Linked DNA regions of Homo sapiens. The protein of the gene in region 4 purifies or fractionates together with the protein of the main gene of each other region. This does not show direct contact. Each region holds a gene or a part of one and is shown on either strand. Other genes may lie near its edges. The genes, in order: PMVK, CCDC25, PLS1 and SLC25A32.

The links.
Region 1: the proteins of SLC25A32 (region 4) and PMVK purify together in Homo sapiens (affinity purification with mass spectrometry; 3 studies listed by BioGRID and IntAct, with this or other methods). This does not show direct contact.
Region 2: the proteins of SLC25A32 (region 4) and CCDC25 purify together in Homo sapiens (affinity purification with mass spectrometry; 3 studies listed by BioGRID and IntAct, with this or other methods). This does not show direct contact.
Region 3: the proteins of SLC25A32 (region 4) and PLS1 purify together in Homo sapiens (affinity purification with mass spectrometry; 3 studies listed by BioGRID and IntAct, with this or other methods). This does not show direct contact.

What each region holds. Positions count from the first base shown.
Region 1 is NC_000001.11:154,926,699-154,933,719, forward strand, and holds part of PMVK (phosphomevalonate kinase), read right to left. Parts: intron 5,718-7,021; coding exon 5,654-5,717; intron 2,479-5,653; coding exon 2,326-2,478; intron 1-2,325. UniProt on the Homo sapiens protein: Catalyzes the reversible ATP-dependent phosphorylation of mevalonate 5-phosphate to produce mevalonate diphosphate and ADP, a key step in the mevalonic acid mediated biosynthesis of isopentenyl diphosphate and other polyisoprenoid metabolites.
Region 2 is NC_000008.11:27,769,641-27,776,779, forward strand, and holds the start of CCDC25 (coiled-coil domain-containing protein 25), read right to left. Parts: upstream 3,001-7,139; 5' UTR 2,901-3,000; coding exon 2,873-2,900; intron 2,429-2,872; exon of another isoform or gene 2,334-2,428; intron 1-2,333. Other genes in the region: N-acetyltransferase ESCO2, read left to right, coding at 5,875-5,927, 6,722-7,139.
Region 3 is NC_000003.12:142,591,384-142,599,400, reverse strand, and holds the start of PLS1 (plastin-1), read right to left. Parts: upstream 3,009-8,017; 5' UTR 2,892-3,008; exon of another isoform or gene 2,053-2,891; intron 1-2,052. UniProt on the Homo sapiens protein: Actin-bundling protein. In the inner ear, it is required for stereocilia formation. Mediates liquid packing of actin filaments that is necessary for stereocilia to grow to their proper dimensions.
Region 4 is NC_000008.11:103,412,107-103,419,638, reverse strand, and holds the start of SLC25A32 (solute carrier family 25 member 32), read left to right. Parts: upstream 1-4,531; 5' UTR 4,532-4,701; coding exon 4,702-4,855; intron 4,856-6,107; exon of another isoform or gene 6,108-6,216; intron 6,217-7,532. Other genes in the region: DCAF13 (DDB1- and CUL4-associated factor 13), read right to left, coding at 4,123-4,192. UniProt on the Homo sapiens protein: Facilitates flavin adenine dinucleotide (FAD) translocation across the mitochondrial inner membrane into the mitochondrial matrix where it acts as a redox cofactor to assist flavoenzyme activities in fundamental metabolic processes including fatty acid beta-oxidation, amino acid and choline metabolism as well as mitochondrial electron transportation.

The DNA.
Region 1 (7,021 bases), on a different chromosome or scaffold from region 4:
TTCATTAATCCAATTAAACAAGTATTATAGTAAGTACCTACTGTACGCTGGTCACTGTGCTAGGTGCTAAGGCTAGACTGGTAAGCAAAACAGACCCTGTGCCTGCCCTCTCAGAGCTTACAGTCTAGTGGGAGACACTGAACAAGTATTCAGTAATCAAATAACCATGTGATTACAGTGTATGTCAACAAGTGTCTCAACCTCAACACGGCTGAAACTCAACTCCTGATTTCCTCTCCAATCCTGTTCCTCCCCACCTTCCCTGTCTTAGAAAATGATAATTCTATATTTGTCCACCTGCTCAGAACAAAATCCTTGGTATAGTCTCTCACACCCCACAGCCAACCCAAGGGCAAATCCTGTTGGTTTTCTCTTCAAAATACACGCAAAATTGACCCCTTCTCTCCACTCTACGTTTGCTCCCCTCTGCGCCCCAACCATAGTCATTTTGTCTGTTACAGAAAGGTCCTGGCCAGGCATGGTGGCTCATGCCTGTAATCCCAGCATTTTGGGAGGCCGAGGTGGGTGGTTCACTTGAGGTCAGGAGTTCAAATTTTGCCAAATGGTAAAACACCGTCTCGACTAAAAATACAAAAAAAATTAGTTGGGCATGATGGCACATGCCTGTAATCCCAGCTACTCGGGAGGCTGATGCACAAGAATCGCTTAAACCCACAAGGCAGAGGGTAGAGTGAGCTGAGATCGCGCCACCGCACTCCAGCCTTGGTGACAAGAGTGAGACTCTGTCTCAAAAAAAAAAAAAAAAAAAAAAAAAAAACACAGGAAAGTCCTCCACCCGGCCCCTGTGCTTCTGCTCCCATCTTCCCCACAGCAGCTATGGCCAGGCTTCTCAATCTGAAATCAGATCATGTCTCTCCTCTGCTTAGAACGCTGTAGTGACTCCCCATCTCACTCAGAATAAAATCCCAGCTCTCCCAAAGGTCCGCCCTGGGAAGTCTGACCTGACCTTCCACCACTCTGGCCACCTGGCTTGTCCTCAGACACACCAGGCACACTCACCACTCAAGCCTCTGCACTTCCTCCTCCCTCTCTCTGGAAAGCTACTTCCCCAAATATCCATTCAGTTATCCCTTATTTCCTTCAGGTCTTGCTCAAACATCATCATATCAGTGTAGCCTTCCCAGGCACCCTTAATAAAACAGCAACGCTTCCCTATCTCTCCTCATATCCTAGGCCTACTTTATTTTACTCCTTAGTATTTACCACTGCCTGATATATTCTGTATTTATTCTGTGCCTATCTCCCCGCCACCCTCAGCTGTAATGTAAGCTCCCTGAAGGAAGAGATTTCATTGCGCTTTTGCACCAATATATCCCCACAACATGCAACCACACCTGGCAGAAGTAGACACTCAATATTCACTGCCAGAATGAATGAGGAAAAAAAGGGGTAGGGTGCTATAGGAGCACCTGCCAGGGAGCACCAGTTAAGACCTGAATATTAGGGAAGGCTTCCCTGTGGAGGTGTCATGTCAACTGAGCTGAAGCTAACCAGGGAAAGAGAAAGAAAGGGCAGTCCAGACAGGTGGAAGGGCATGTGCAAAGGCCCTGATTCCAGAAGGAGTTCGACTGACTTGAGGACCAAGAAGGCCAGTGTTGCTACAGCTTAAGGAGTAAGGAGGCTAAAAAAGTAGCAGAAACTGGATCACACAAGGCCCAGAAGTTCATGTGAAGGATTTTCATTTTGTTCATGAGCACAATGGGAAGCCACCAAAGTATTCTAAACAGAAGAGTGACATCACCTGGTTCACGTTTTTAAAAGGTCAGTCTGGGCCGCATGCAGTGGCTCACACCTGTAATCCCACTATTTTGGGAGGCCAAGGTGGGTGGATCACCTGAGGTCAGGAGTTCGAGACCAGCCTGGCCAACATGGTGAAAACCCGTCTCTACTAAAAATACAAAAATTAGCCAGGCGTGGTGGTGGACACCTGTAGTCCCAGCTGCTTGGGAGGCTGAGGCAGAAGAATCACTTAAACCCAGGAGGCAGAGGTTGCAGTGAGCCAAGATTGCGCCACTGCACTCCAGCCCAGGCGACAAGTGTGAGACTCCATCTCAAAAATAAATAAATAAATAAATAAATAAATAAATAAATAAATAATAAAAGGTCAGTCTGGCTACTGTGTAATGAATAGACCACAGAGGGCAAGAGCCACAGCTAGAGACCAGTGTGGAGGCTACTGCGACTGTCCAGGCCAGAAATGGTGGGGGCTTGGGCCAGGATGGTGGCAGTGGAGACAGAGAGAGATGGACACAGCGAAGAGCTAGGGAAACAGGTGTTCTTCATGCTGCCATGGAGCCCTCTTACCCAGATGGGCTGGGAGATGCCCTCCACAATCTTCCTGCAAAAGAAGCCTGGGTCAGCCTGGCGTTTCTCCTCTCCCCAGCGGATCATGTCCTTCCGAAAGGCCTCCTTGTAGGTGCTGGTGTCCAGGAGTCTCTGGAAGTTCAAGCCATGCTCCTGCCCAAAGGACATTATGTCTACGTCACCGGCCTTTCAACCTCAGTGGTCTCTCCTAAAACAGCGGAAGAGCCATCCCTCACCCTCACCTGCCTCCCCCAGGGCTGATGCAAGGATTAATGAGGTTTCAGCCAGGACAAAGGTCTGCAAGGGCAAGAGTCTCAGCAACTAAGAAATCCCGATCACTGGTAGACAGAAGAAAGGTCTGGGGATAATCCAGAAATTGTTTCAATTTGTCTTTGAAATATGTGGCGTGGTTTCTCTTTTGCAAGTTTTACCTTCCCAATTATTTCTGGCTTAAACTAATACTGAAATTAGTTTGCATCCCCTGGGCAAAGGCTTAGCCTTCAACTAAAGTGGGAAATCTGAGGGGGGAAAAAAAATCCTGCACTCCATGTCCTCCCACTAGCATTGTTTGCCCCCATCCCAAATCCCACGGAGATTGTGTCTCCTTTCTCTCCCCCTTACCCCTTCCCATCCCCAAATTCCTGGCGCCTTTGCTGAAACAGCATCACTCCATCTGGCTCTGGGCACTTGCAAGGCCTCCCACACCCAGAGGACCCCCAAGGCAGGAGAGGTTACTCTGACCACCCTGGGGAACTCCTTTCTCCCCTTTCCAAGCAGAGGGGTCCATCCAAAGGGATCCAGGATAGGAGGGGTCTGAAAAGCATCACCTCGTTCAGATTCTGGCTCCTCCATGAACTCACTGCAACAAGACCTTCTCCCCTCAGGCTCTCAATTTCTTGATCACCCACCTGCTCCCCTTGCTGCAAGAGGAGGTCAGTAGCCACCTCCTGCTCCTGAACCAGTTTCCCTCCAGGAGCGTTGTGGTCTACTTGTTGGTTATATTTCTTCTTGTGACTTAGGAAATCAATGCATGAACATTTCATTTTGGTTTTGTTTTTTAATGGGAGTGGGGGATAGAGTGGTGCTGGACTTGCACAGAGCAAGGGCAGTCTGGCCTATCAGAGTCTTCCATGGAGCTTTTAAAAATGCAAACTGGCCAGGCACAGTGGCTCACGCCTGTAATCCCAGCACTTTGGGAGGCCGAGGCGGGCAGATCACAAGGTCAGGAGTTCAAGACCAGCCTGACCAATATGGTGAAACCATGTCTCTACTAAAAATACAAAACAATTACCCGGGCGTGGTCACCCATGGCTGCAATCCCAGCTACTCAGGAGGCTAAGGCAGTAGAACTGCTTGAACCCCAGGAGGTGGAGGTTGCAGTGAGCCAAGATCGTGCCACTGCACTCTAGGCTGGGCGACAGAGCGAGACTCCGTCTCAAATATAAATAAAATAAATAAATAAATAAAAATGCAAACTCCTGCTCCTTCTTCCTCCCGCCCCCCACCCAACCCCACCAGTCTCACTCAGTAGGACAGAAGCAAGACCTGTCTGGGAACTTTGGAAGATCAGTTTTGAAAGTGCTCCTGGGAGGCCTTTGGAAGTGCCTAGGCCCCACTAGGGAAGGCTCAGTGCCTTCCCCTTCACCCCTTCCTTCCTCCCATCCCCCCACCACCACCCCACCACCCTGCAGCATCGCTCCCAGTCTGTCTCCTGGATACAAAGAAATTCTGTATCCAGTTTCATTTGGGAAAGAATCCTGCTTAAAATTTTTGAAAACCAGGCCAGGTAAAGTAGCTCCTGCCCAAATCCTAGCACTTTGGGAGGCCATAGTGGGAGGATCACTTGAGCCCAGGAGTTGGAGACCAGCCTGGGCAACATAATGAGACTCCCATCTCTACAAAAAAAAATTTTAAACTTAGCCAGGCATAGTGGCATGCACCTGTATTCCTAGCTACTTGGGAAGCTCAAGTGGGAGGATCACTTGAGCCCAGGAGGTCAAGGCTGCAGTGAGCCATTATGCGCCACTGCACTCCAGCCTGCGCTACAGAGCAAGACCTTGTCTCAAAAAGAAAAAAAAATAAACCACTTAATTTAGTTATTCTTACAATTCCTCAGGCTGCCACCCTATGAATAGGTCTGTTCAGCTGGTGAGAGATGACCCAATGCTTCCCATGGAGGCAAAGATGGCATATAGAAGGGGGGACAATTCATTTTATGTGGTTCCGGAAACCACACTCTGGCCAATTGAGGGGCCAAAGCACACGTCCCAGAAGGGTGCACCTAGAGGTCAAGGGCAAAATGTGGCGACAAGAGGGCTCTTCACCATGTGGGAGGCTGATCTTGCCTTCCAAGTTCCCTTTCTGAAGTCTAAGATTCTGAGAGTTCCTGTTGACTTATTTTTTTTATTCTATTTTAACGATTCTATTTTTTTTAATCCATGTGGTTCAAAATTCAAAGATACACATTAATTTACAGTCGAAAATCTCTCTCTCACCCTGTCCCCTCCCTGGGGGCAACCAATGGTACGGTTTCTAACCTGTCTTTCCCATGCAGTGCAGGAACACATCCCAGGCACCTGAAACAGTGCTGAACATGAGACAGGCACCCTGTAAATATTTGTTAAATAGCCAAATATATGAGCAGATATATTTAGAATTCTTTTACAATTCTTGGTCACAAAGTGCCTCTTCAGTTTTAGACAAATGTAGCATTCTCTACACACTGTTCTATATCTTGGTATTGGCTTTTTTTTTTTTTCACTTAATGATATATTTTGACAACTTCTGGGACTAAATTTCTTTTTTGTGTGTTGTTGTTTACTTTAAAAAAAATTTTTTTTAAAGAAACGGAGATGGGGTTTCACCATGTTGGCCAGGCTGGTCTCTAACTCCTGGACTCAAGCAATCTACCTGCCTCGGCCTCCCAAAGTGCTGGGATTACAGGCATGTGCCACCGTGCTCGGCCTGTACTAAATTTCTAGGAGCAAAGTTCTAGGGGCTGTGTCAGGCCAGCTGAGTGAGAGGGTGGTGTGAGGAGGCACAGGCAGGTCCTTACTAATCACACAGCATCAGAGCTGCCAACTCGAGTGTCGACAGCCTTTCCTGGGCACACCTTCCTGAACTCACTCTGAAGGGAGGGAGGCTATTAGGAAAGAAATATAAGCTGAAAATGCCCCCGAAAGGTCCACTCACAGAAAACCAAGAGCTGGCCACCACCCTGCCAGCAGTGGTGACGGGAATCATGCCAGTGACTCAGGCAGCAGCCACAGCTCCAAAGTCCTGGAGCCGGCCCCGCCCAACACACCGGATGCCACAAAGCACCACCTACCTGAGCATACTGTTCCTTGAGTGGACCAGAGAGCCGGAGGACAGCACAGACATCAGCTCCAAGTCTGCAGGACAGGGAGATCAGAATCCAGTTAGCCTAGAATTTCCAGGAGCTTCCATGTCCCAGAAAGGGAGTCAAGAGGCCTGTGTTGAAGTCCCATTTCTACTACTGGTATTATGTAACTTTGGTAGGTCTCAATGTCCCTGATCCTGTTTCCTCATCAGAAAATGGGGATAACACTTTCTGTTCTGTCTCCCACACAGGATTATTATGAAACTCTAAAGAATATAAAAGAGCCCTGAAACTAACAGGTAAAACCTATAAAGTGCTAATTACAGTGTGAACAGGCGCACAATATTCTAGCTGGATTAGGTTATTGCCCAGACCCTAAACTAATTCTCTCATAGCCAGAGGTATCTGTCTCCACTGACTTGGTCACCATAACATATATCATTTATTAATTCACTGGTTGGGCATGGTGGCTCACACCTGTAATCCCAATACTTTGGGAGGCCAAGGCAGGAGGAGTGCTTGAGGCCAGGAGTTCAAGACCAGCCTGGGCAACACAATAAGACCCAGAGATACCATCTCCACCAAAAAATTTAAAAATTAGCTGAGCATGGCAGCATGTGCCTGTACTCCCAGCTACTCCAGAGGCTGAGGTGGGAGCATTCCTGAGCCCAGGAGTTCCAGGCTACAGTGAGCCATGATTGTACCACTGTATGCCAGCCTGGGAGACAGAGTGAGACCCTGTCTCATAAAAATGAAATAAGAAAAGCAAATTTAAAAAACTGAAACAAAAGCCAGGTGTGGTGGCTCACGCCTGTAATCCCAGTACTTTGGAAGGCTGAGGCAGCAGATCACCTGAGGTCAGGAGTTTGAGACCAGCCTGACCAACACGGTGAAACCCTGTCTCTACTAAAAGCATAAAATTAGCCGGACATGATGGCGCATGCCTGTAATCCCAGCTACTCGGGAGGCTGAGGCAGGAGAATCACCTGAACCCAGGAGGTGGAAGTTGCAGTGAGCCGAGATCGCCCCATTGCACTCCAGCCTGGGCAACAAGAGTGAAAATCCATCTCAAAAATGAAAATAAAAATAAAAATAACTCATTCGTTATTTAATTTACTTAACCAACCTTTTTTTTTTTTTTTTTTTTTGAGACGGAGTCTTGCTCCACCACCCAGGCTGGAGTGCAATGGCGCGATCTCGGCTCACTGCAATCTCCGCCTCCCAGGTTTGAGCGATTCTCCTGCCTCGGCCTCCCAAGTAGCTGGGATTACAGGCGCCCGCCACTACACCCGGCTAATTTTTGTATTTTTAGTACAGACGGGGTTTTGCCATGTTGGCCAGGCTGGTCTCAAACTC
Region 2 (7,139 bases), about 76 Mb from region 4:
AACCACATGTACAGAGACAGAGAAATAGCTCATGGCACACACTGTGGAAGGCTAAACTACTGAGAAAAATAAGGAGATGTCAGTGTGATGAAGGTGGAAGAGTAGGGTCTGTGAGTTACAACTTCCCTGAGCCTCAATCTTACTTCTAAAGAGAAAGTATTGCCTTATTCAAACCCACACAAACAATGTGGAACTAGTTTCACTTAAATCTTACCTTTTGGCTGAGCGTGGTGATTCACGCCTTTAATCCTAGCACTTTGGAAGGCCGAGGCGGGTGGATCACTTGAGGTAAGGAGTTCGAGACTAGCCTGGCCAATATGGTGAAACCCCGTTTCTACTAACAAAATACAAAAATTAGCCACGCATGGTGGCGTGTGCCTGTAATCCCAGCTACTTGGGAGACTGAGGCAGTAGAATTGCTTGAACCCAGGAGGTAGAGGTTGCAGTGAACTGAGATCACACCACCGTACTCTAGCCCGAGTGACAGAGGGAGACTCCATCTCAAAAAAACAAAAAACAAAACAAAACAAAAACTCACCTTTTGTAATTCCAGCACTTTGGGAGGTTAAGGTGGGTAGATCACTTGAGCTCAGGAGTTCAAGACCAGCCTGAGCAACATGATGAAACCCCATCTTTACTAAAAATACAAAAATCAGCCAGGCATGTTGGCTGGTCCCTGTAATCCTAGCTGTACCAGAATCGCTTGAACCCAGGAGATGGAGGTTGCAGTAAGCTGAGATCGTGCCACTGCACTCTAGCCTGGGTGACAAAGCAAGACTCCGTCTCAAAAATAAATAAAATAAATCTCACCTTTAGACCGGGCGCAGTGGCTCATGCTGGTAATCCCAGCACTTTGGGAGGCTGAGGCAGGCAGATCACCTGAGGTCGGGAGTTCAAGACCAGCCTGACCAACATGGAGAAACCCCGTCTCTACTAAAAAAATACAAAATTAGCCAGGCTTGGTGGCGCATTCCTGTAATCCCAGCTACACAGGAGGCTGAGGCAGCAGAATCGCTTGAACCCGGGAGGCAGAGGTTGCAGTGAGCCGAGATCGTGCCATTGCACTCCAGCCTGGGCAACAAGAGCAAAACTCCGTCTCCAAAAAAAAAAAAAACAAAAACAAAAACAAAAAACTCACCTTTAACAAGCATATAGAGTAGCAATAGAATAGAAAGTGCTATAAGTAAGTAAAAAAATGGCATTCATTTATTCAACAAGCATTTATTGAGAACTACTAACCAGTCACTACGTTAGGGAAACAAGTACAGTAGTCCCCCCTTATCTGTGGGGGATGTCTTCCAAGATCTCCAGCAGATGCCTGAAACCGAGGACAACACTGAATTCCATATATAAAGGGACTTGCCACATAATGATGCTTTGGTCAGCAACAAACCACACATACTATGGTGGTCCCATAACATTATAACGAAGCTGAAAAATTCTGATCACTATTGCCTGATGACCTGGTAGCCATCATAACAGCGTGGTGCAACTCACTTTTTCTACGTTGAGACCCGTTTAAATACACAAACACCATTGCGTTACCATTGCCTACAGCCATTCAGTACAGCAACGTGCTGTACAAGTTTGTACCCTAGGAGCAACGGTATACTGTACAGCCTACATTTGTGGTAGGCTATACCACAGGTTTAAGTATACTCTACCGTGTTGCTACAACAATGAAACCGCCTAATGGAGCATTTCTCAGAATGTATTCTTGTCATTAAGGGACGCATGGCTACTGGTATTCCCTATATATGTATACCTATGATAAAGTTAATGTATCAGTTCGGTGGAGTAAGAGATTATTGACAATAACTAATAATAAAATAGAACGATTATAACAACGTACTGTAATAAAAGTTAGGTGACTCTGCTCTCTCTCTCTCTCAAAACCTTATTGTACTGTACTCACTCCTTTTCTTCTTGTGATGATGTGACCACGGAAAGCGAAATACAGGACAAGTAGGGACTACTGTAAAGAGATCCTGTCCACGCCCTCAAGGGACTTACACTCTAGCTCAAGCAGACACCATTTAATACCACGTGATAAGTGCAATGCCAAAGGCATACTTGGAACGTTAAGTGGGTCCCAGGAAAGGAATAGCTAAGCAATCTTGGGGTAGGAGCTAGCATCAGGAAAGGCATCTTGGAAAAGATGGGCCAAAACTGTCTTAAGGGAATTAGCTGGGGGTTGATTTTAGGAAAGGGGAATAACAGGAACAGAACGAAACCAAGTCGGGACACTGCATTTCCTGGGAACGAAGGGCACCCTTTCCTTATCTGTCAAAGATAAGTCAGAAGCATTACCATAGGTCACTTCTGAGATCTGGGACATCAACTGCCCGGAGAGTGGCTGGGTGGACATCCCAGGGTCTTTTTATTGTTTTCTGTTGCATCCCAGACCCTACAACCCCTTCCTGAAAGGGTAAGTCGCGCTTCCCTTAAGAAAAAGTTGTTAGCAGGTGTCTCCTTTCTCACAGGGGATAATTACAAGGGTTCAGCCAGAACAAAGGCCGCAGATGGAAGGTGGGAAGAAGACTTGGGATAAGGTGTGTGGAGGAGCCCACAGGCTCTGCCCAATCCCAGGGAGTGACGGGACGTCTTTCCGATTAGGGGACGAGAACTCCCCGATACAAACATAGCAGTGGCATCGCCCCTCCGCGCCCCCCACGCCATGACGAGGGGACGCCGGGGGAAATCCTGCAGCCGTGGGAGGGACGGATGTGCTGGGGGACCGAGAGGCCGCGGGAAGAGGCACTCGCATCCAGAAGGCATTTTAGAGCGAGGGTCAGGCGCAGCGGCGGACTGCGGGTCCCGGCTTCGGAGCCCGCTGTCCAGCAGGGTCCAGGAGGACGTGGCGCCCACTCACCGCTGCTGCTGGTGAAGTAGAACACCATGATCCCGGGAGCGGTGCGGTGACTCCACCGCGGAGCAGCAGCGCTCAACTCACGAAGCTCAGGATACCAGACTCGCGGCGGCCGCCTGGCCCCCGGAACTCCTCCGTGCACTTCCGGCGGACGTCGGGGCGCGTCATAACGCCGGCCGTGGGCGCCATTTTTAATCCTGGCGAGGCGAAGTGTAGTGGCAAGGAGTTTGGTTCAGTGATTTGTGGGTTAAGGGAAAGAGGCTGGGCATCTTGGGCACGTTAGTTAACCTGTCTGTGCTTCACTTTCCTCAGCAGCGAAATGAAGATGATACTAGAGCAGCTAACTCACAGGATATTTTTTAGGGTTAAATAAGTTAATGGGCGCCAAGGGTTTAGAACATAGCACACAAACGAGTTGTTTCTGATACTCACCAGGACAATATGCCTCTTGGGGATTGGACTTTGTTCTGGCTTAAATCGAAGGCCTGCCATCCCAAACCTCTGAACCTCAGAGGTCCTCCTGCTATAAAGTAGGAATAATCATATTCATGTAAAGCTCCTACAGCACTTGGCTTTGCCCTGATTATTTCTCTTGAGAAAGCACTTTTATCTGAGGAATGTGAGTCCCTTTAAATTACTAGGTCTGGAGAGGCATTAAGATAAGACCCCATCATGTTCTACCACCCCCTTGAGCTATGTATTCATCTACTGAAACTACCTGCTTCTGCCACAGGTAGCTACCTACTAACCTAACACTGCCACACAAGACACTATGACATGACCCACACCCTATAGTTTAACAATGTCTAGCCAATCACTGATGCTTGTAGTTTCTATACATCAATGAGAATGCTTGACAGTTGTGTATCAGCCCACTTCCTGCCCCCCTTCTTCGTCTTTAAAAACCTGCTTGTAGCAAAGGCCAGACAGAGCTCATATCCAAGCCTGCTGGTGGAGGGCGGTGGGGGGAGGGGGGTTGGAATCTTCTGGGCAGCTGTCCCCGCTTTAACTCAAGCAAACTCTACATTCTTTTTTTTTTTGCCTCAGCCTTTTCCTTTTAAACTGACACTCTTACATCACTGTCACTGACTTCATTCTATGAAATTGAGGGCGTCACTTAACGAAATTTATTTACATGCTTGCTTTGACAGCATGTATACTAAAATTGGAATGATACAGAGAACTTTAACATGGCCCCTGCTCAAGGATGACATACAAATTTGTGAAAATTAAATTTGAAAAAATAAACATAAAACTCTAAACTTATTTGAAACTAAAAATGTGCCAGAAACACTGTACCAGGAGCTGGTGACACAAAGATAGTAACAATAGCTAACAATAACCGTTTTAGGAACTTTCTGGTTTTCCAAAGTAAGAATTTAGCTCTGTTCTGTAAATAGCAATTGTTTTGGGTTCTCCGTTGTATTATTTGTAAAATGGGAATGGCAATAGATATTAATGCCTTACAGATTGTGGTAAGAAGTAAATGAAACAAAACATGTAAAGCATCTAAGAATGCCTGGCACATAGCAGGTGTTAAGTTTTATATTTTAATTTGAAAAATAAATAGAAACCTAAAGTTACTAATAAAAAAAGTGAAACTGACAATGAAGCTTCAAATGTGAAAAATAAGTGCATCGAGAATCTTGGAGAGGCCTTTATTTATTTATTTATTTATTTATTTTTGAGACGGAGTCTTGCTCTGTCGCCAGGCTGGAGAGGCCATTTTACAAAAATTTCTTACCCCGTGACCCCAGAATGTATCTCAACTTCAACTGGACCGAGAACTACAATTCCCAGAATGCACCTAAACAAGGCCCCGGGAACGGAGTCCGGCGTTGCTGCAGGGGATTGTGGGTGGCGTGGTTTCCCTCAGAGATTTTTCACCTCACCAGGGCGCGAGAATCTTGGAAACAGCCACCAGGGTGGGCGGGGCAAGGGCTGGTGCTCCACCAATCACCGAGCCAGCCCCTGGAAGCGCTGAGCCGTGGCCAATCGGAACGCAGCGGCTTCCTCCTAGCCTGGCGCGCGATTATTTGAAGACGCTCACGGAGCGGCTGGCTAGGCTGAGGAGAGCTCGCCGGGCTCTGAGGCGCAGGTAACCTCTGGAGTAGGCCGAGGCGGGGGGCTGTGGAAGGCTGAGGCGAGCGGGAGACCCTGTGGAACGTGGGGGCGAATGTCACGGGGAAAGAGCTTTTGCTCGGCGCTCGGCAGGTCCGCAGGCCCGAGACCGAAGAAGCCACTGACTCGTTCTCCGCGCTCACAGGCGCCGGGTTTCCCTCTTCCCGACGCCGGCGTTTCCTTGTTTTGGGTTTAGGGTTTGTTTGTTTGTTTGTTTCCCTGACCGGGTTCAGGGTCGGGACGCTTTCCTCTCCTACCTTTCCTCGCTTAGCCCCAGAGGGGTCCCCCCTTAAGCCGCAGCTCGACCTGAATTCCCAGAGACCCTGGCCTTTCAGTTTGTTCATTCATTAATAGCTTTGAAATAACGCTTGTGTGCTGCTTTGGGGGGAATTTCCCTGATCCCAGGGAAGGGGAAGGAAATGAATTCTGACGAGCCACGTAGCCGCCTGCTCGTGCATTCTAGCATTTGTTTTCAGCAGCCTTACGACTTCAAGAGATTTTTATAAAAAGGGAAGCAAACGGCTTGCTCCGGGCTCATCAGCTAGGAAAATGGCAGAGGACTGTGCTTCACCCGTTTTCTTGCTGGGCTCTGATGAAAAGTTACAGACGGTCTCTGCCTTCATTGAAGGCTGTTGAGATGGGGAAACAAGAAAATGTCTTAAATGGACTATTAGGGAAATACAGGGTGCCATGGAAGCAGAACAAGCGCGTGTAACCCTTGGAGGGGTGGAAGGAGAGCAATGTCGAGGAAGACCTCCCAGAAAATAGGGTTTTAACTTGGTGTGAAATAGACTAATTAAAGGGGGTATAATTTTGATAAAGCGATTTTTAATATTTTGATGAATGTGGTTATTGTCATTTCTTTTAGGAATTCAATAAAGAAAATGGCAGCTCTTACTCCAAGGAAGAGGAAGCAGGATTCTTTGAAGTGTGACAGGTGAATCTCAGCCTGTGAATAGAAACTCTTAGAAAAATCCACCTTCTTGTCTCTCTTGTTCTCTCCTATTTTCTAAAATTTTCGTTCTTCCACTAGCCTACTCCTTGTGGCTACAGTGATAACCTGATAACCTATATTCTAATTCTAGCTTGGAAATACATTAAGTTTTCATAATGAATTATTTAGTCCTTTTCAAGGGAATCAAAGCTGTTTTTTAGTTTTTGTTTTTTTCTTTTGACATAGAAGCAGCACATTGAAGAAAGCTGTTTTCTATAGCTAGGAAATATACCAAATCAGCTATTACCTTTTTCCTTTCTGTTCCCCTATAATATTTTACAGTGTTTTGCATACAGTAGATGCTTGTCTGGAAACAATTCTAGAAAGACTGTGTACTCAGATATTAATTACTCTACCCAGGAAAAGCCCCAGGGGGTCAGTTCATTACAGACAGTTATTATAGGGGGCTTGTAAACAATAGAGCAAAATATATGAGCTATAATTTATATATGGCCAACACATAGAAATCGATTTTAAAACATACATGCATATATGTCTATCATAGCTTCTTTGTATATAGTATTTGTTTTCATGAACTCTTTGGGAAGATATTTGAATGTTTTATTTGATAAAGACAGAATTTGAGAATCCTACTGTTAAACTAATAGAAAATTGTGTGTATGGGGGGTACATGTATTGTTTTTAATATGACCTACAAGTAGAGCTTACTTAGCAGTAGATTTATGTAAATTTTGACGCAAAATAATCTTATCAATGGACTTTGTTTCTTTTTATAGCCTTTTACACTTCACTGAAAATCTGTTTCCATCACCTAATAAAAAGCACTGTTTTTATCAAAACAGTGATAAAAATGAAGAAAACCTGCATTGCTCTCAACAAGAGCATTTTGTTTTAAGTGCGCTCAAAACAACTGAAATAAATAGACTGCCATCAGCAAATCAAGGCTCACCATTTAAATCTGCGCTCTCCACTGTATCTTTTTACAACCAAAATAAGTGGTACCTCAATCCACTGGAGAGAAAGCTGATAAAAGAGAGTAGATCTACTTGTCTAAAAACTAATGATGAAGATAAATCTTTTCCCATTGTGACAGAAAAAATGCAAGGAAAACCAGTCTGCTCCAAGAAGAACAACAAAAAACCACAGAAGAGTTTAACTGCTAAGTATCAACCAAAGTATAGACACATCAAGCCT
Region 3 (8,017 bases), on a different chromosome or scaffold from region 4:
CCGAGATTGCGCCACTGCACTCCAGCCTGGGCGACAGAGCGAGACTCCATCTCAAAAAAAAAAAAAAAAAAAAAAAAGAATATCTGAGTCCCTCCTCTATACAATTAGGGGATAGTCTGGATAAAGCGCTACCATATAGCTCTAAGATCCTAAATGCCCACCCTCCCCATGGCAAAATGCACTTTTTATTTATTTATTTATTTATTTATTTATTTATTTATTCATTCATTCATGTAATAACTATTGAGTGTCTGATACTGCAAAGCAATGTGCCAGGTATTGTGAAGGGTTAAAGGTCATCCTTCAGAGAGCTTATCATCTAGAACGGGAAATAAGACAATTACATCACTAACTAAGAAACAGAGACAATGTCACAATTCGAGGTACTTTTTTTTTTTTTCAGATGCAGTCTTGCACTGTCGCCCATGCTGGAGTGCAGTGGCACAATCTTGGCTCACTGCAAGCTCCGCCTCCCGGGTTCATGCGATTCTCCTGCCTCAGCCTCCCAAGTAGCTGGGACTACAGGCGCCCACCACCATGCCCCCCCAGCTAATTTTTTGTATTTTTAGTAGAGATGGGGTTTCACCGTGTTAGCCAGGATGGTCTCAATCTCCTGACCTTGTGATCCACCCACCTCGGCCTCCCAAAGTGCTGGGATTACAGGCGTGAGCCACCACACCCAGCCAATTGGAGGTACTTTTAAGATAAAAAGAACATTATAAACCCATTACTAACACCCCAACCCTGAAATTCATTTTCAACATGTCTTTCCTTCTCTGCATTTAGTCTTTCACCACATGCTTCTTCCTTTACATTTCTTAATTCTGTGCCCTCTTTTCTCCACTTTGAGTCACAGGCTTAATCCAGGGCCTGGACCAACTGACCCGTGTTTTTACGCCTGTCTCCTGTAATCCCCCTAACTAATCTGTGATCTGTTATCAAAATATGAGGAATCAGAAATGGACTTGGCTGCTGTCTTGATACAGCTCTAACATGGCCTTCCCCATATTATAGAACACACATGAAATCTCTTTACAAAACTATACATACTGCACTTCCTTCCCCCACTCCCTCCCACAAACAGGGGCTAAGAATATACTTTGTGCTTAGTGCTGGGTGGGATGTTTAAGTCATAGGCTTTAACCTCCAAGAGCTTACACAACCTGCCAACTTCCTGGTCGGGAAGTTGGGAGGTGCTAAAATACTCAGGATACTATATACAATGGGGATACTAACAGCACAAACAACAGTAGTAAGTGCTATAGGGTTCAGAAGAGGGAGAGCTACTTCATGCTAAGGCAATCAAGGAAGGCTTCCAAAAAGAGGTCACACCTGAGCTACACCTTGCAGCATGAGCAGGACTTCAATACGGAAAGAGGGAGGCAAACAGGCATTTTGGGCAAAGGGCCCAGGTGACTGAGGGAAGGAAGGAGGGCGTTTTCAGGACCAGCAAATTGTTAGGTGGGGCTTCAGTGAAAGGGCACTTTTTGAAAGGAATTTATGAGGTACTAGGAAGCTTAGTAAGAGAAACAACTAATTTTCTGCTTAAGCCAGACTTCATGGTATAAGTAGAAGAGAAAAAGGAAGTTTAATAATGGAGGTAAAGAAGAGTATCTGCAGGGAGTGGTAAAAAGACCCCAGAAAATGAGAAAACCTGGATCCCAGGCCTAGCTTTGCCAATGAGGGGCTTGGGTGGCCACAGCAAGTCATCTAACCTCGCTGGTCTCAGTTTTCTCATTTGTAAACTGAAGCAGCTGAACTGGCTGACCTCAAAGGTCTCTACAGCCAAAACTAGACCAGCTGTATATTATTTCTGCCATTAAAACATTTATCATGGGAGGAATGAAGGGGGGCAGGATACCTGTATTCCCTTTCCATATAGGTTTCTCTTCCTGAACTTAAAATTTCCTCTTCCTAAACTTACTACCTCTCTCTCTATATATATATATGCCTCCACATTACACATTAACACTTTACTATAGAATTTCATTACATAATTCAACTTAAAGGAAAGCTGATTACAAAGGTGGTGGGGGGTGTAAAAGTACTTGCTTCAAGTTCAGTGTGTGCCCCCTGTCCTGAAATTTTGCTTCTGGCTCACAGGTTCTTCAAGAAATTTATGCAGCACAGCTGAAGCCTCATACAAGTGTATCCAACACCGTGGCTGGAGGGAAAGATATCACGGTATAAGCCATAAAATGTGACATAGTAAGTAAGTAAAGGAGGAAAAGTGAGAATTCTGTTACTCATCTAAACGACCGCTTCCTTTTAATAGTACCAAATGAAGACCGAAATACAGTAATAATTGAAAAGTTAGGGAGAAATCTTAAATTTTTTTAAGTCTCCACTTGAAAATGCAGCTGAAACACGGAAAGTTTTTTGGCAGTGAAATTCGCTGAAAACTGACATTTTTATGCCGCATCCAGAGGTCCCTATGCTCCAGGAAAGGTACCAAAAACAGCACGGATGGGATTTCACTACAGCCCTATTGATCCTATGCACCAAAAGGCCAAAGGCAAATAAACCAGTCCCAGAATTAAAACAAAACAGGCTGGTTCAGAAAGCCTCACCGGCAGCCACCCAAAGTTGAAAGAAGAAAACTTAATGAAATACCTTATTTCATTGCATAGAATCACAATTCAGTTAACAGGCTTATTGTTTAAGCAGTGTAAATACGCGATTTAACACCTGCGGGCACTGCCTGCCGGGACTGGGCAGAAGCGTGCCCAGAGGACGGCGGGCGCCACACTGCACAGCCAGGAGACGAGACGCGAGCGAGGGGACCCGGAGATACTGCCCCCGAGCCGCCGCGCGCCCCCAAAGGAGTAACGCTTCGCTTTCCATCTGTCTGTCCAGCCTTCCTTTTGGGCCCTATCCCCACCCCCGCGTACCTGCCGCCACCGCTGTCCTGCCTTCGAGAGGGCAGCTCCCACTGGAGATCCAAGTACCTGCAGGTCCACTCTGCGGCTACCTCTCCGCGCCCGCGTAGCCGCTGCGCTCGCGCCACTGCGCATGCTCGGCCGGCACCCGGGCCCGCAAACTCTGAATCCACTTGCCGCGTTTTGCCTGCGGCTCCCAGGGGAGGGAAAGGGAAGCCCAGAACCTGGGTTTAGGCTAAGGGTGAAAGAGGAGTTGCAGGCGCTGGGAGCGTGGATGGGGAGAGGTGGACGGGCGCTGCGGCAACGTTATCTCTACCGCCCACAGTTACCCAAGTCTAAAGATGACCACCTACACCCTGGGAATGAGTTTAGCACAGCAGTTCTCAAACTTGAGCGTGGATCAGAATCACCTGGAGAGCTTTTTAAATCACAGATCCCAAACCCGGAAACTGAGTTTCCGATTCAGTTAGGTCTGGAGCGTAGCGCGACAGTTCCCATTTCTAACATGTTCTCAGCGAAAACTGGTGCTACTAGTCTGGGTACCACACTTTGGGACCTGCTGGTCAAAAGGAAAGGTATACGTTATTAAAGGAAGACTTGTTTCTCTCCCCTACTCTTTTTTTTTCCGTTTGTTTCACGGATTGCTTCCTTTTCCTTTAACAGCCACACCTGATTAAAATAAATATATAACTAAAGCCCACACTCAAACAAAAGTGGGATATTTTCTCTCGCATGTGAGTCAGGTAAATGGAATGCTGCCTCAAGAGTTCTCACATACTTTGCCTGAAGCATAATCCGTAGTTGTGGTCTGTCCAACTCAGTCCAGAGAACAGAACAAGGTTTTGCTGCCCCTTTAACTCAAAGTCCCACGTGCCCCTTCTGCGCCTAACACAATATCCAATACAGAATAGGCACCCAACCAACCCTGAGATGGTAACAATAGAAAAAATAAAGGGGGGAAGTTGAAATTATTTTAAGAACTCAAACAAATTGGACGAGCAATGAACTATGAAAGTAGGTGGGCCATGGAGAGGGAAGATAAGGAATTTTTCCCACCTGCCACCTAGAGAATCAGGTGAATTTAGTATTCTTATCTGATTTTTCCCACCTGCCACCTAGAGAATCTGGTAAATTTAGTATCCTTATCTGATACTTATTTATCTAGATATGCAAGGGGAGTTAAGTAAGTTCTCACAAAATAAAGCAAAATATTTCCTTAAAAGGTAAACATACATCTAACATATGACCCAGCCATTTCATTCCTAGATGTTATCCAAGAGAAATTAAAACATATGCTTACACAAAAACTTGAACAGGAATGCTCATAGCAGCTGTTTTTCACAAAAGCCCCAAACCAGAAGGAACCCAACTGTCCAACAACATGTAAATGAAAAAACAAATTGTGGTATATTTATACAATGCAATACTACTCAACAATAAAAAAGAAGAAATACTCTCACACAGGACTCAATATGGATAACTCTCAAAATCGGTATGCTGAGTTGAAGAAGCTAGAGACAAAACATATTGTATAATCCCACTTATATGAAGTACAAACTAACCTATAATGACAAAACCCAGATTAGTAATTGCCTGGAGCCAGGAGTGGAGGGAAGGATAAACTGCAAATGAGCAGAAAAAATATTTTTGGAGGGGGACGATGGAAATTTTCTCTGTTTTGATGGTAGTGACAAGTTCACAGGTGTATACAACTGTCATCGCTAAGTTGTACACTTTAAACATGAAAAATGTGTGTAAATTATTCACCAATAAGTTTGATAAGAGAACACTTTTTCATGAAATACTCTTATGATCTGTTTTTTTTTCGTGGTAATATTGACCAGGGCAGGTTCATGAGGAAACGTAGATTCTAAATATGGTATAACCTGATTTGGGAAAGGTAAAATAAAAAGTCATCCTCTGTAAATGAAGCTAAAAATAATGCATATAAAATGTCTGTAACAACCCTCTGTAAAAGCAGCCAACCCTAAGATATGATTTGTAAATATACCATTGATAAAACCGTTTCCCAAAATTGTTTCCAAGTGTAAAATAATAACTAGAGTATATCATTAGAAATGCACAACCAGGGCCCAGTGCAGTAGCTCACGCCTGTAATCCCAGCACGTTGGCAGGCCAAAGTGGGCAGATCACCTAAGGTCAGGAGTTCAAGACCAGCCTGAGCAACATGATGAAACCCCGTCTCTTCTAAAAATACAAAAATTAGCCGGTCGTGGTGGCAAGCGCCTGTAATCCCAGCTACTCAGGTGGTTGAGGCAGGAGAATCTCTTGAACCCAGGAGGCAGAGGTTGCAGTGAGCCAAGATCAAGCCACTACACTCTAACCTGGGCGACAGAGCGAGACTCTGTCTCAGAAAAAAAAAAAAAAGAAATGCACAACCAGCGTGTAATAATTATATAAAGAAAATTGTTACCTGCTTAACTGATTGTATCACTAGCAATGACAAATAAGGTATTCAAACTGTGTTTCCAGGAGCTCTGGGTTTCATGGAGAGAAAAATACGCAGGGCTCTGGATCAAGGACCCTAACCCAGACTGCTTACATATTGTAGTATCTTGTGAAATCTTATTTGATAAAAGGGTTTCACTGATAATTTTGTTTTTTTGAGACTGAGTCTCGCTCTGTTGCCCCGGCTGGAGTTCAGTGGCACGACCTCAGCTCACTGCAACCTCCACCTCCCAGGTTCAAGAGATGCTCCTACCTCAGCCTCCTGAGTAGCTGGGATTACAGGTGCACACCACCACACCTAGTTAATTTTTTTAATTTTAGTAGAGACAGAGTTTCTCCATGTTGGCCAGTCTGGTCTCGAACTCCTGACCTCAGGTGATCCACCCTCCTCGGCCTCTCACAGTGCTGAGATTATAGGTGTGAGCCACCGCACCTGGCCATCATTGATAATTAAAAGAGCAATCGTTTGAAAACAATTGAAGTAATAGTATCAGGTCGTAAGAATTCACAAAGAGATGGTATATTTGGTGGACCTGTTTTTTGGCTTGCAGAGCAATGAGAAAAAATACATACAAAGATTTTTAAACTAGTTAAAAATGTACACTGTAGTTATAGTAACCATATGTTCCAATTTTTGTAGAATAGTCTTCATTTAAATATTTGTTTATTACATAAATTATATCTAATCATGTATTCCAACTGTTGGTTGAAAAAAATAACATCTTTTAAGCTGGGGGTTGTTTTTCAAAATAATATAAAAAATCACGAACTAAAAATAAAACGAGGATAAAGCAGGGCATGGTGACACACACGTAATGCCAGCATTTTGGGAGGCCAAGGTGGAAAGGGCACTTGAGCTCAGGAGTTCAAGACCAGCCTAGACAACGTGGAAAAAACCCATCTCTAAAAAAAAAACAAAACCAAAATTAGCCAGGTGTGGTGGCATGTGCCTGTGGTTCCAGCTTCTCTGGAGTTTGAGATGGGAGGATCTCTTGAGTCCAGGAGTCTGAGGCTACAGTGAGCCATGTTCACTACACTGGACTCCAGCCTGGGCAACAGAGCAAGACCCTATCCGAAAAAAAAAAATTGAGCTGCTACTGGGTAGTCACCATTTTAAACACTTCACCGTATTTACTCATTGAATATCCATGCCAACCCTATGAAATTATCCTCAATTTACAGATGAGAAAACTGAAGTACAAAATGTTATTTTTCCCATGATAACACAACTAAAGACTAAATAATTACAACTACATTTTTAAAATATATTTTATATAAAGACAATCTTTGCTAATTTCACAGTTTCCAAGGATCCATCTGAATTATTAATTTATTTTTCCAGGCTCATTGATACTAAGAGGGCTACCAAAAAAGCAGAGCTCTAGTGATTACTGCCATCATCATCTTCATTATCATTGCTAATATTTATTCCATGTCTTCTATGTACTAGCTACTGTGCCAAGAAGTTCACATTGTTTATTTCATTTAATATTCATGAAGACAAAAGTGCAGATTCAATAATAATAGGTAACAAAGACAGCGAATGGCGGAACCAGGATTCCAACTCAAGAGTGAATGGCGGGCCGGGCGCGGTGGCTTATCCCAGCACTTTGGGAGGCCGAGACAGGTGGATCACTTGAGGTCAGGAGTTCAAGAACAGCCTGGCCAACATGGTGAAACCTCATCTCTACCAAAAAATACAAAAATTAGCTGGGTGTGGTGGCATGTGCCTGTAGTCCCAGCTACTTGAGAGACTGAGGCAGAAGAATTGCTTGATGCAGGGAGGCAGAGGTTGCAGTGAGCTGAGATCACGTCACTGCACTTCAGCCTGGGTGACGGAGTGAGACCTTGCCTCAAAAAAAAAAAAAAAAAAAAAGCTAATGGAAGAACCAGGATTCAACTCCAGTTTTCTACTATTTACAATACTGGTCCCTGTATTCTAAGGGAAAAATATTGGCATTCTGGATTATAACCGAGTCTCTGTGAATGTGGCTAATGTTAGTTCATTCCCCAGAGCCTGATGGTTTCTAACATGCTTATAACCACAACACCCCACTGCAACCCAGCCCTGATCAGCATCCCGAAATCAGCTACTATATAGGCACCAATTTTACAATCAATTTTAGAAAAGTAGGTGCATTCTGAATGATACCAGCAAGTGTGATGTGACCATATTTATTTCATTTGGCTGGTTTTTTTTTTCCAGAACAAAGAGAGTAGAGAAAAAAACATATGTGAGAAAGACTAAGATTCAATATTCAGTCTGTGGCCATACCACCCTGAACACTCTCGATCTCGTGTGATCTCGGAAGCCAAGCAGGGTCAGACCTGGTTAGTACTTGGATGGGAGATTCAGTATTCATTTCAACTCTGAATTTATGATAAATCATTTAGAAGAGAAAACAATAATATGAGAAATAAGTCCAAAAAAACAGGGCAAAACTTCTCTCTCTCTCATGCATACACACACACACACACACACACACACACACACACACAAAATTTAACACACACACCGTTTTGATCTAACACAGATAAGATCAAAATAGCCAACAAAGCACACACACCTAAACCCACCTACCACCTAAAATCTCATGAAATGATAAAGGGGATAATTTTATTTGTTTATTTTAATCATTATTTATTTTTGAGACACAGGGTCTCACTTT
Region 4 (7,532 bases):
TGCCTAGCACAGTTTCTGGGACAAAATATGTGCAAGATGTTTGCTCAACAGAACTCTAAGCTTCCTGTAGGGCAGGGAACATTATTAATCTCTGGTGCTAAATACTGTGCTGATAGACACACGAAGTTGTGATTATGATGATATTATATAGCTATCATTTACTGAGCACTTTCTATGTTTGTTTACTTACTTAAAAAAGACTCACATAAGAGTTCAAGTGCCAGGCGCTGTTCCAAAAACCTTAACCGTTTAATCTCCACAGCATCCTATGTGTTAAGTTCTATTACTATCTCACACTTTATTGATGGGAAAACTGAGGCATAAAGAGGTTAAGTAACTCGAATACGACACGGTGGAGCCAGGATTCAAACCAAGGCAGTATGGCTCCAGAATCTATGTTTTAACTGTCCTGATACGCTGCTAAACACATTGTCTTGGTTAATAATCACGCTTAGGGCCGGGCGTGGTGGCTCACGCCTGTAATCCCAGCACTTTGGGGGGCCGGGACGGACGGATCACGAGGTCAGGAGATCGAGACCATCCTGGCTACCACAGTGAAATCCCATCTACTAAAAATACAAAAAGTTAGCCAGCGGTGGGGGTGGTATGTGCCTGCAGTCCCAGCTACTCAGGAGGCTGAGGCAAAAGAATCACTTGAACCTGGGAGGTGGAGGTTGCAGTGAGCCGAGATCGCGCCACTGCACTCCAGCCTGGCTGACAGAGTGTGACTTCATCTCAAAAAAAAAAAAAAAAAAAAAAAAAAAAAAAAAAATATATATATATATATATATATATATATATATATATATATATAATTATGCTTAGAAAGTAATTTTAAGCTCGTATGTCTAAAAAAACTCAGTGAGTAAAAAGTAAATGCATCTTCTTACCCCATGACTTCATCCTGCTGTTTCTTTCTGACTCCCTGGTAATGGTGTTATATCTAACATTCAACAAAGCTCTAGCCTAGGTCATTCTTATGTATTCCATCTTCCATATTCCCTACTACCAAAACTCAAAGTCCTACTCATCATCTCTTTGCAACACTTACTCATCTTTCAACTCTCTATTTCTAGTTTTTTGTGTTTTGTTTTTGTTTTTGTTTTGAGATGCGGTATCATTCTGTCACCCAAGCTGGAATGCAGTGATATGACTATAGCCTACTGCAGCCTCAACCTCCAGGGCTTAAGTGATCCTCCCACCTTAGCCTCTCACCTCAGCCTCCCAAGTAGCTTGGACCTGAGGCATGCACCACCATGCCCCATTAATCTTTAAATTTTTTGTAGAGACGGGGGTCTCCTTATGATGCCCAGGCTACTCTCGAACTCCTGGGCTCAAGAGATCCTCCCACCTTTGCCGCCCAAAGTGTTGGGTTTATGAATGTGAGCCACTGCATTCCCAGGCAGTTTGGGTCTTCATTATCTTATACTTGGGCTACTTTAATATCATCCCTACTTGATTTGGCGGCAATTTACACTATTATCAGATGTCTTTTTTTTTCTTTTTTTTTTGAGACGGAGTCTTGCTCTGTTGCCCAGGCTGGAGTGCAGTGGCGCAATCTCGGCTCACTGCAAGCTCCACCTCCCGGGTTCACACCATTCTCCTGCCTCAGCCTCCCGAGTAGCTGGGACTACAGGCACCCGCCACCATGCCCGGCTAATTTATTTATTTTTTTGTATTTTTAGTAGAGATGGGGTTTCACCATGTTAGCCAGGATAGTCTCGATCTCCTGACCTCGTGATCTTCCCGCCTCGGCCTCCCAAAGTGCTGGGATTACAGGCGTGAGCCACTGCGCCCAGCCTATCAGATGTCATCTTAAAACAGCTTTTTACATGTCACTCCCATGCTTAAAACTTCCAAAGGCTCCCTATATAGTAGTCTTCAAACTTTCTGTGTGCCCCATTAATAACAGAGTTTTTGAGCAGATCCCTTCTCAACATATGTGTATGTTAATGAGAGCATGTAATTAAAGATGTTCTTTTTTTTTTTTTTTTTTTGAGACGGAGTCTCCCTCTGTCACCCAGGCTGGAGTGCAGTGACGCAATCTCGGCTCACTGCAAGCTCTGCCTCCTGGGTTCACACCATTCTCCCGCCTCAGCCTCCTGAGTAGCTGTGACTACAGGCACCCAGCACCACGCTGGGCTAATTTTTTTGTATTTTTAGTAGAGACGGGATTTCACTGTGTTAGCCAGGATGGTCTCAATCTCCTGACCTCGTGATCCGCCCGTCTCGGCCTCCCAAAGTGCTGGGATTACAGGCATAAGCCACCACGCCCAGCCAAAGATCTTTTTTTTTAAGAAAAATCTTGATTCAACACTGTGATAGATTTAAAGGTTCTAATTTCAGCTTAATTCAATGTTTGGTTTTAATGGCTACTATTATAAAAAAAATTCAAGCAGTACTCACTTTCGCACTGTACTGTATTAACGGGACGGGTTGCATACTGGAATCAATTCCCCACTTTGCAAAGTTTCGTGGTTAACAGATGTGATTTCAATCACTGTAAACCTCTTAAAGAGTGGGACTGGTTCAGTTAATATGGTACTGTGCAAAGTGCAGAATGCCTGTACTTCACAAAGAAAGCATACCCAAAATGATAATGTCCATAATTGGCCACGTTTATTTAATATATTTAATTTTCAGTCTCATCCATCAGTTTTGCAAAGATTATTTTTGAAGTCTAGAAAATTTCTATCTACTCTGATGTCAGCAGCTGTTCCTACAACTAAAATTAGCATTTTAATAATTTCAACAGAAGTTTAAAAACCCCAACAAGATAGATCATTTTGTTTCTAAATCTCTTCATGTAGGCAAAAATGAATCTTTATAGATGGAGAAACTGACATTTATTAAAGCAACTATGTGCTAGGTGCTGTCTTAACAGTGCATACACGAACATGATTCTTCCCCTTTTTGGAGGCTAAGTCTGATGGGAAAGACTATTAACCAAAATAATAATCATGAGACAATGTGATAAACACTGTGAAGAAGTGATAGAATCACAGAAGACGGGTGCTGAAGGGGGCGGGGCTCATGCAGGAGGTAAGCAGGAACAGATTACTGTTCGGTGAAAGTCTTCCAGAGAAAGCGGCTAAACTGGGTAAGGGTGTGTGCCACAGGAGGCCTTAAAAAAGATGACTGAAACGCACTGAGATTTGCAAGGGTGAATACTAAACCACTTGTGGGAAACGTAGTGACTGACTAAAGTGGCAAGGAAGGTGGGACCAGAGATTCAAGGACTGGGAACGATGCCAAATCCAAGTGACAAATCTAATTTATATTTTAGAAACATTACTGCCTTGTGACAAACTGTAAACATCTTTTGAGCAGAGACTTATTAGCAATGCTCACACACATGTTGATAATATCTCCTACTCAACCAAAATAGTGAAATACTGTTTTCGCCTCATCTCATCTCGCTTACTCCTCATTCAAACTAATGACACAGCCCTTCTTTCTATGCCTTAGGTTCATTCCTGCCTGAAGACCTTTGCTCCTGTTATTCTCTTTATTTAGAACAATCTGCTTACGCATGGTTGGTCCCTTGTCATTTAGGTATCACAAAGTACAATTTATAAGTGGTTAGCATGTTAACGGGGGAACAGACCAGGAAGGATAAATTAATTTCATTTAACCATTCTTTCATCAAACTTCTTAAGGGATGGTAAGAGAAAACTGATGCTTTTAAATTCATCTTTGTCTCTTCCAACATCCACAACTAATGTGAAGTAGTAAAGCGGCAAGAAGAGCAGTAGGAAGGTTTTAAAAGCCTGTTTAACTCTCAGCCCTTCAACCCACGAGTTTGGCTCATTCAAGTCCACTTTTCAGTAATAGGAACCTGAAGACAATCCCAGAGCAGCAGCTGGAATTTTTCTCCACTATAGACAACTGTTTCCCACTCACCACTAGAGGAAATTCTTAGAAAAAGGACTTGAACAGACTTTACTTGCTATCCATCCAGTTCCGCAGCGACTCCGTAAGCACAAAGTTTGCCTTAGCGAAAGGTAACTGAGAAAGAACCAGACCAGAGTGCCAGCCTCCCCCGGCTTTACTCCGCGAAAGCCGAGGCTAGACCCAACGACTTGCGGAAACCGTCCCTTTCTCCCTACCAACTTATCTTACCTCTCTGTAAGTCCAACTTGGTTTCGCGGACATAATTGTCCGGATTCCGGCTCAGCATCTTCACCTTCATCTCGGTTGCTCTTCCGGCCGGACTCCACGAGGTGTCCGCTAGGAGTTCCGCCCACCGCCACCTCCTCCCACAGGCGACTTCCGCTTTTCCCAGACTACTTCCAGTCACGTGACTCGCGGAGCGGCGGCCTGCTGGCTCAACTGGATCCTGCGCCGCTCCGTAGTTTTGCCGGCAAACGTTAGCAAGGGGCGGTTCTTTAGCTGTGCAGTCGCTTCCGCGTCCGTGGGCTGGAGCATTTGTGGGCGAGGCAGGGCGGAGACTCGGGAGAGGCTGGGACCTCCCCTCCATCGCGCTTTCCGCCGGCGTGACGTAGTGTCTGTGCCCCGTTCTTGCCCCCTCAGTACTAGAGTCTCCGGCTTCGCTCACGCGCCTTGGGCATAAGAGTCCTCTCGTTGGTCCCGGAGGTGGGGTTGCGCTCACAAGGGGCGACCGTCGCCACGGTGGCGGCCACTGCATCGCGTCCCACCTCCGCGGCCCTGGGCGCCGTGGTGTCGACGGGCCCCGAGCCTATGACGGGCCAGGGCCAGTCGGCGTCCGGGTCGTCGGCGTGGAGCACGGTATTCCGCCACGTCCGGTATGAGAACCTGATAGCGGGCGTGAGCGGCGGCGTCTTATCCAACCTTGCGCTGCATCCGCTCGACCTCGTGAAGATCCGCTTCGCCGGTAAGAGCCCGCCCAGACACCGGGCTGCATCCTCTCACTGTCAGCCCGAACTGGATCTCCTCCGTCTTTTCCGTTCTAGGGGGAGGAGGAGCGTTGAAGGGAGCGTTGCTGTCCGCGTTGGCTAACCTGAACTAGATTTGAGGAAATGGTGCTTGGTGGAGGGGTCGGCCTGCGATCTTCCCCGCTCCTCAAGACTAAGAGAGGGGGCATGTATGTAGAGAAGTCTGAGAAAAAACATCCTCATTGGCAGAGAAGATGGGATTCAAAGCCTGATTTGTAAAATAAAGAAGGGATTGTCACATTTTAAGGTTTAGTCCTCACACGTGCAAATCATTCACTCTTGGAGGAACTTTGAAATCTTAGCATACCCACGTGGTTTGGCAGCTCGACTAGTATTGGGATAGGGCGTAATCTTCAGCGAATGGTTGGGAGTAGATTTAGAATAGAATTCTCTTGAATGTTTGTTTTTTGGCATTTGTAGAATGGTACAAGTTTCTGTGAAAAAATAGCTAGAATCGAAATACTATTTTAAGTGTATTAGATGAATTGAGTATGTTGAAATTAACAAAGCATTTTAGAAGTTAAACTCAACACTAAAGTCTGGAAAGAGTTTCAAAGATGATCTTTGATAACTGAAATTGCAGAAAATAGTTTCCAAATAAAGTTATTACAAGTTAAGTTCAGCCTTGAGAATTAAATCTACAGAAGTTGTTTATTTTAGCATTAGGCAATTCAGTTCACTTGATTTATATTCTCTTAATATTTGTAGACTGCTGTATGGGCTACAGAAGTATCTAATAAAGTTCTTGCCTTCAGGGAACTTAGAATTTAATTGTAGGCGTTAGACTTAGTCATATAAAAGGTAATTCTAGACAACATAAAATCAAGAAATACAAAAACAAAATATAAATACAGGTAAACCGTTAAGAAAATTCTACATTACTGATGGCCATGTGTATCTTTAAGGTTCAGTGGAAGATTGGGGCTTGGGGTTTCCCATAGAAGGGCTAATATTTTGACAGCTGGAGAGGAAGCAAGAACCCGTTCTATGAAGGAAAATCATCGAAAATTATGGAGTATTATCTCTAGAAAAAACACCACAAAGACATATAATGTCATGAAGTTTTATGATGCATGCACAAATAATTATGTTATTGACAAGTAATCTTTATCGAGTATTTACTAGGAGCAAGGCAGTGAACTATGCTTTAGATGCATTATCTCATTTATTATCCTGTAAATCTATTCACAGGAACAATCCTGTGAGTTTATGATATCTGCTATACAGATGAGGATAACAGAAGTTGACTAACTTGCCCAAGTCACAAGTTTGTAAAGATGGATCTGGGATTTAAACCCAGGTAATCTAACTCTGGAACCCTCTGGCACTTAACCCCTCACCGTATTACCTCTATAAGTACCTGTTATACAATGGTTTGAACATTGGAAGAATTTTAGACTTGCCTGCAGGTGCAGGCCTGTATGACTTGCTGTCTGTCTTCAGTAGCATTTTATCTAGGAGCAGAAGAGGTGATAGTCGAGGTGATCATTGAAGAATAGTGTGGTTGGCCTGATGAGTTTAGACAGTGCTTTGAAGCATATCATTCCTGAGGAAAGGGAATTCTTGGTACCTGAGAAGATTAATAGTCTTGATGAATTGGGAAGAGTATTAGGAGACTAGTGGGGCTGAGGTGACAGATAAAAGGATTGAGTTTGGATTGGAGGCCTAAATTAAAGATCCAGGAGTGGAAGCAGGACTTTGTAATAATAAAGCTCACAGTGTAGCTGTGAAATGGTGATAGGAGGAAAACTTAAGAAGATGAATAACGAAATAAAAATTTATTGATTATCAACATCAGTGCTGAGTAACATACTATAATTTTTATGCTTCCATGTAATTAAACTCATTTAATAAAGTTAAAATCTAATGATGACAGGGTGTGGGGGTTAATTCTGAATGCATGTGCTATTAAACCAAACCTGGAATTTTTCTGTGAGTTCAAGTATAAATTGGAACTCAGAGGTGTCCAGAGTGGTAGAAAGATTAGAAATTACTTCATATGAAAAATGACTGGAGGAACTAGTTTAGCTCGGGAGAGAAAAAAACCTCAAGATATTTAGAGAACTTACATGTGGGAAAGGGGGCTGCCTTATTGTGGGTTGATCCTAAGGTCAGACACAGGTTGAGTGGAAATTACAAGGAAGCAGATTTTGGTTTGGCAATGTGGCAGTGCTCAGAAATGAAATTGATGATGATCAGAAGTGGTTCAGATAGTAGTTGGATGACAGAAGTTAGAAGATATTCTTGTATTAGGTGGAAAGATTGGATTGGATGATTATTCAGGCCCCTTCTAACTTTACTCTGTAATTTTAAACCCTCAAGAATGATGAGAGAGCCCCAACAAAGAATGAGATGTAAAAATAGTAATTTTCTCAAATACCCAAAAGCCTAATCTGCAAGTTAAAGTTGTGTGTGAGCTTTTGTGAAGAATGTAGAGACTATGACTACATCCAAAATATTAAGGAACCAAAACGTAAAATTCAGTAACAGTAGTGCCGAGTAAAGTTGTGTAAGTATGTGGTATCGCAAGACCCAGTAGCATAAATAAACTAGTACTTACAGAGTGCTTGCAATATGTCAGGCATAATTCTAAGAGCTTTATATGTACTAACTGAT